2 linked regions of the Homo sapiens genome follow. The protein of the gene in region 2 purifies or fractionates together with the protein of the main gene of each other region. This does not show direct contact. Each region holds a gene or a part of one and is shown on either strand. Other genes may lie near its edges.

The links.
Region 1: the proteins of LCP2 (region 2) and HCK purify together in Homo sapiens (pull-down; one study listed by IntAct). This does not show direct contact.

Annotation. Positions count from the first base shown.
Region 1 is NC_000020.11:32,097,084-32,099,970, reverse strand, and holds part of HCK (tyrosine-protein kinase HCK), read right to left. Parts: intron 968-2,887; coding exon 836-967; intron 1-835. UniProt on the Homo sapiens protein: Non-receptor tyrosine-protein kinase found in hematopoietic cells that transmits signals from cell surface receptors and plays an important role in the regulation of innate immune responses, including neutrophil, monocyte, macrophage and mast cell functions, phagocytosis, cell survival and proliferation, cell adhesion and migration.
Region 2 is NC_000005.10:170,252,584-170,256,413, reverse strand, and holds part of LCP2 (lymphocyte cytosolic protein 2), read left to right. Parts: intron 1-3,200; coding exon 3,201-3,295; intron 3,296-3,830. UniProt on the Homo sapiens protein: Adapter protein primarily involved in signaling pathways within T-cells, as well as other immune cells such as platelets, mast cells, and natural killer (NK) cells.

The sequences.
Region 1 (2,887 bases), on a different chromosome or scaffold from region 2:
CTATGATTACACCACTGCACTACAGCCTCAGTGACAGAGTGAGACCTTGTCTTAAAAAAAAAAAAAAAGGTGGAGAAAGGACAAGATCTGATTTAAAGTTTAGAATTATCCTTCTGGCTGCAAGTGGAGAATAGGCTGTAGGACGAGGAGGGAGAAAGCAGTAAGACTGATGAGGATGCCGCTGCACCATCTATGGGAGATGACGCTGGCCTGGATGCAGTGGAGACTGTGGGGTTCAAAGTGGTGAGACTTGGGATATGTTTTGGAGTCGAGTGGCCAAAACCCTGTGACTGCTCAGATGTCATAGGGGTGAGGCCAGGCACAGTGGCTCACGCCTGTAATCCCAGCACTTTGGGAGGCCGAGGCAGGCGCATCACCTAAGGTCAGCAGTTCGAGACCAGCCTGGCCAACATGGTGAAACCCCGTCTCTACTAAAAATACAAAAATTAGCCAGGCATGGTGGTGGATGCTTGTAATCCCAGTTACTCAGGAGGCTGAGGCAGGAGAATCGCTTGAACCTGGGAGGCGGAGGTTGCAGTGAGCCGAGATCACGTCACTGCACTCCAGCCTGGGTGACAGAGGGAGACTCCGTCTCAAAAAAAAAAAAAAAAAAAAAAAAAGTCATAGGAGTGAGAGAGAAGGAAGGGCCAAGGAAGCCCCCAGATTTCAGGCTTAAGACATTAGATGGATGGAGGTGCCTTTAACTAAGACAGGAAAGGTGAGGGAAGGTTGGGGGTGAGGATCAAGAACTCAGTTTGAATGGACATGTTGTTGAGATGAGCCCATTGCCAGACTGGGCCCTGGTAGCAGCCCTGAGCTGATGCCCCTTCCCTACCTGGGTAAGGGATCCGGCCGTAGGTGACGATCTCCATCAGCAGGATACCAAAGGACCAGACGTCTGACTTGATGGTGAAGGAGCCAAAGTTGATGGCTTCAGGAGCTGTCCACTTGATGGGGAACTTGGCCCCTGCAGGGTTGAACAGAGCAGAGTCGGGGAAGGCTGGGGAGTAGTGAGGGTTGGCTCTGCTAAGGTGGGGGAACAGGCAAGGGCAAGAGCTGCCAACATCTGCCCCTGCAGACCTGCAATTTCCCTGATACGTGGCCTCCCTGTGGAAGCAAGGGACATCCATCCTGAGGACAGATGGCTAAACAAGGAGGAGTGGGCTTAGGGGCCTGGGGTATGGTGTGGAAGTTCACTCTAGAATCCTCCTCGTTGATTCAGCTGATACCCCAGTTAACTGCAACTCCGAAGAGTGGAATCCCAGAGGTCACAGGTCTTTGGGGACAGAAGGACTTCAGGGGGCCTTGAGTCCAGGTTGCAGCTGATGCCTCAGTCCTCTCATCCTGGGCGATGGGAAAAGGGAGGATTCTGGCTCTCAGCCCATGAGGTTCCCACCAGTCACTATGTGTCTCTCCCTTTACCCGCCCTTCCTCCCACCTAGTCTGACATGGGTTTAGTTAGCCTTTTCATTTTTTTTTTCTTTTAGAGACAGAGTGCCCAGGCTGGAGCGCAGTGGCACAATCATAGTTCACTGAAGCCTCGAACTCCTGACCTCAAGCTATCCTCCTGCCTCAGCCTCTCAAGCCCCTGGGGTTACAGGTGTGCCCCATTATGCCAAGCTAATTAAAAAAATTTTTTTGGCCAGGTATGGTGGCTTGTGCCTGTAATCCCAGCACTTTGGGAGACCAAGGAGGAGGATCACCTGAGGTCAGGAATTCGAGACCAGCCTGGCCAACTCCATCTCTACTAAAAATACAAAATTAGCTGGGCATGGTGGCAGGTGCCTGTAGTTCCAGCTACAGGCTGAGACAGGAGAATCACTTGAACCCAGGGGATGGAGGTTGCAGTGAACCGAGATCACACCACTGCACTCCAGCCTGGATGATAGAGTCAGACTCCGTCTCAAAAATAAAATAAAATAAAATAAAATAAAATATAAAAAAATAGAAAAATTTGTAGAGACAGTGTTTTATTATGTTACCCAGCCTGTTCTCAAAACTCCTGGGCTCAAGTGATCCTCCCATCTTGGCCTCCTAAAGCACTGGGATTATAGGTGTGAGCCACCGCACCTGGCATAGTTATCCTTTTTTAAAAAGTGTTTAGTTTAATTATATCATGGTTGGTGAACATGGTCTATAGAATATATGTTCTTTGGAATTTGTTGAGACCTGCTTTATGACTGAGTACATGGTCAAGTTTTGAAAATGTTCTATGTGTGTGTTTGTGTGTGTGAGAGTGTGTGTGTGTGTATATGTTTTCTCCCTTCCTCCTTTGGATCTACAGACTTTTCTTGATTTCCTGCTTATCTTCTTCTGGTTTAGAAATTATACATTCTACTTTTATTCCTTTAGTCATTACATTTATTTATTTATTTATTTATTTATGTTTTGAGACAGGGTCTCGCTCTGTTTGCCCAGGCTGGAGTGCAGTGGTGTCATCTCAGCTCACTGCAAGTTCCGCCTCCCGGCTTTCACGCCATTCTCCTGCCTCAGTCTCCCAAGTAGCTGGGACTACAGGTGCCCGCCACCACGCCTGGCTAATTTTTTGTATTTTTAGTAGAGATGGGGTTTCACCGTGTTAGCCAGGATGGTCTCGATCTCCTGACCTCGTGATCCTCCCACCTCAGCCTCCCAAAGTGCTGGAATTACAGGCATGAGCCAACGTGCCCGGCCCTATTTATTTACTTTTTTGAGACAAAGTCTTGCTCTGTTACACAGGCTGGAGTGCAGTGACATGATCTTGGCTCACTGCAGCCTCAACCTCCTGGGCTCAAGCGATTCTCCCGCCTCAGCCTCCTGAGTAGCAGGGACCACAGGCTCACACCACCACGCCTGACTTATTTTTAAATTTTTTGTAGAGATGGGGTCTTGCTATATTGCCCAGGCT
Region 2 (3,830 bases):
GATTTCCTCATTCAACATTTAATTCCGTGTCTGCAGTGTGCCAAGGGCTGTCGGAATGATAGGATAGTACCTAAAACACAACACATACACACACACGTATACATATACATGCCCATACACACATGCACATATACATGCACACACACACATGCATACACATGTACACATATATACATGTGCACACAGGTATACACATATATACACATACACAATACATGCACACACATGCACATGCATACACACATACATACATGGACACACCTACACACACTTCACCAGGAAGCCAGCCCTCATCCCCAATCTTCCTGTGCAGAACTATTCCTCCAGCTCCGGTTTCCCTACGGAATCCTCAGAATCCTGTTTGCCTTTCTCTGCAGTTTTAGATTTCCATGATCAATCTGTCCATGGTTGTGAGTTGGGGAGCATGTTCAAAATACAAACTAAGAGAACTTAACGTCACAGATTCTGATTCAGTAAGTCCGGAGTGAAGTCAGGGACCTGTGTTTTTAATAATACCACCTCTGGACGTCCATGATTAGTATTCGCTTAGAGTGTTCTGCAACTTGAAAGTGCATATAGATCACCTGGGAATTGTGTTAACATGCAGATTCTAATTCAGGAGGTCTGGGGTGAGGCCTGAGTTTCTGAATTTCTAACATATTCCATGCGATGCTGTGACTGCTGGTTCATGAACCACTTTGAAAGGCACTGGGGCAGGACTAATTTGTGCTTTTTATCCTTAAAGACTTGCAAGTGACAGGCACTTGGTAGGCACTTTAAAAATGCTTGTCGAATGAGCATCAAATGACTAGGGAAAGTTACCCAACTCTAGTAAGTAGCATTCCAGGAAACTGGCTTAGCATTGCCAGATTTTCCAATTTTTTTCTCAAGAAAAGTGAAATTATTTAATTTTTAAATGTTGACTTAAATTTTTAAAAAATGCTGTGAAGAATGACAACAGAAAAGCCACTTTTTTTGCAGTCATGTTCCACATGCAGTGTGTGCACGGGCCAGTGTGTGTTCAGTAGAAAACTATGTTAGTAAATGTGAGTTGATAGCCTGAGAATCAACATTTTTTCCAAGAACACATCTAGGGTATTCAGTTGGATGCATCATTCCATAGAGGGGCGAGATCCCACTGCTGACGCCAGTGGCACCCACTAAGTTTTCAATGTTTTCTAAGCATTTGAGGTTATGGTGGTGTCCACGTTCACCACATGGTTTTCACAGTTTCTCGCCCAACCCCTAATTTTCCACAATCCCCAAAATTCTCTGTGTTTTGCAAACACACATTTGTGTTACCTCCTTGCCTCTGTAGCCATCTGAGTCCCAGACACATCACAGCATTATTTTCCAAAGCAAGTTCCACAGATCTCCAGTTTTATGAGTCTGTGATGGGGCTTATTAATGCAAATAGTTAATTATTTTTGGAACATTAGCTTGATCCAAATTGATCTCTTTTCCCCTAAGACTGCCAGGACACCTGGTCCTCGGTCTTCTCTACTGGTTCTACTGGTTGTTCCAACATCAGAAGGATAAAGTTTGTGCTGTGCATTGCCCAAAAACCTGTCATGACTCCCTTGAGAGTCTAGATATTAAGGGTGGTAGGTGACTGCAATAAAAAAGTGTATGTGCTTCTCTGTTGTAACTTAGAACTCTATGATGCTGGCCTGCAGGTGCAGAGGCAGAAAGAGAATCATTTCTTAACTGTAGAATGGCCATGCAATGCGGGCCTTGGTTCTGTTACTCTCCTGTATTGTTAGGTTTCATTCATTCAACAAGCATTATAAAAGTGCAAGTGTTGGACTGCAAAAAAAATGGGGATGGGGAAGATCTGTCTAGGCACTGGGAACTTGGAGAAGGAAGGCACTGGCAGCTCAGGGCCAGCTTGTTTAGAAACAGGGAAGGAGCATCTTAAACAATCCTGTTGATGTGGCTCAGGAGACTTGTTTAAAAACAGGGAAGGACCATCATAAATAATCTTGATGATGCGGCTCAGGAGGCTTTAGCCCTTACAGGTGACTCTCCTCTCCTCAGTGGTGTAACAAGGTAGACGTAGTGACAATCCGTGGTGTAGAACCACCGGAAGTACTTGCTAACATGCAGATTTCTGAGCCCCAGGTGCTCGCAAGTCGCCCAGGGATTCTGACTCATGCACAGTAGCATTTGGTAACCACAGGTTTAAGTTTTGGCTTTGCCACTGATAGCGCATGATTTGCTTAGCCTCTGAGCCTGTATTTCCCCATATGCAAAATGAAGACAATACCTACCTTGTAATGTTGCTGTGAGGATTAAAAAAAATGTACACACGATACCTTACTCAAGATCTGGACAGAGTTGTGCTGAATAAATATTTGTTGAAGGTATGAATGAATGATGGTTAAATAATTAAGAGAACATTTGACTCACAGAATTTTTCTGTTTTTAACCACAGCCTGGCACATAGAAAATACCCTGGGCAACTGCAATAAACACAACTAAACCTTTCCTGAGATTAGGAAACATTCTCCTAAAGTTTCAAGGAACTGTAAATGAGAAAAAAGAGTTTTAGAGAAGATGAGGCACAAGCACTGGGTAATTAATAGTTGCCCAGTAAAAACTTCCTGATCTGTAGTGCCTTCTATGTGAGTTGAACAGTCTACCTGTTTAGTTAGAACAGCGGGTAGCCAACTTTGATTCTAAAAGCTAGCAATATTCTCAAGGTAATTTTGTCTTCTCTTGGGTCACTTACATTTCTTTTTGTGGAAACATTAAGAACATAATTATCTTCATCATTGCATTGTCCCTACATCAGCTGTTGGGAATCCATTCTGCCTATGATGATATTATAAGAATCTATGAAAAATTTGTCTCTTGAGCATTCATTTTGACGTTCACATTCATTAAAACAATTGCGAATTTTTTTATAAAGGGATCTAGTCACTTTATATTATGTAACATGCACATTTAGAAAAATCACTCAAAGTTGAGGTTCTCTTCTCAAAGTTTTACTGGCATGATTACAGAATAATGCCTGAGCAGCCCCCATGGTTTCAAACAGATGAAAATTATTTTTGAAGCCCTTGTTTCTTAAAATGCGAACTATAGGACCAATCGCAAGGGTATTTTTTTGGGGGAGTGGGGGGAATGTGTTTTGTGTTTTGATAGCAGCAAACAATAGCTTACAGTAAATTAACTGTCAGAATTCTATACTTTTGAAGGCCCTAGCAACAGACCACCTATCAGAGCCGAAGGCAGAAACTTCCCCTTGCCACTTCCAAACAAACCTCGGCCCCCATCCCCCGCGGAGGAAGAGGTAAGAGAGCATGTTTTTATTTTTGTTTGTTTGCCTTTTCCCTGGTAAAAGAATCACCAGAAACTCCCATTGAATGTTCTTCTGTACTTTTATCTTCCCTTTGTTTTATTTTATTTATTTGAAAAAAAAGTTAAAGGAGAAGATCCAGATGAACAATATGTTCTTTTCCCTTGGCGTTCTTTCAGACGCTTTCAATGGCAAACATGTGTTTTGCATTAAACAGCAAGAAAAATAATCCTGTTTTTTATGTTTATGACCTTGATTCGTCACTTAACTGCTCAATAACCCATTTTTTTAATCAAGCAGGTTATTATGCTAAACTGAAGAAATTATTGTATCTGTATCTTTCCTGAAGAGGTTCCATACTGTAAGGAACTCTTATTCACAGGCATTTTTGCAACCAGTGTCATGATAAAAAGCAGTTCGCACAAAATATCTTCTATTTAGCCCCAGCTAAATGACTCTGAATGCAAATTAAGAAAACAAATGTTTCAGACCTCCTGGAATTGAGGTGTTGATTTATGGAAATGATTAC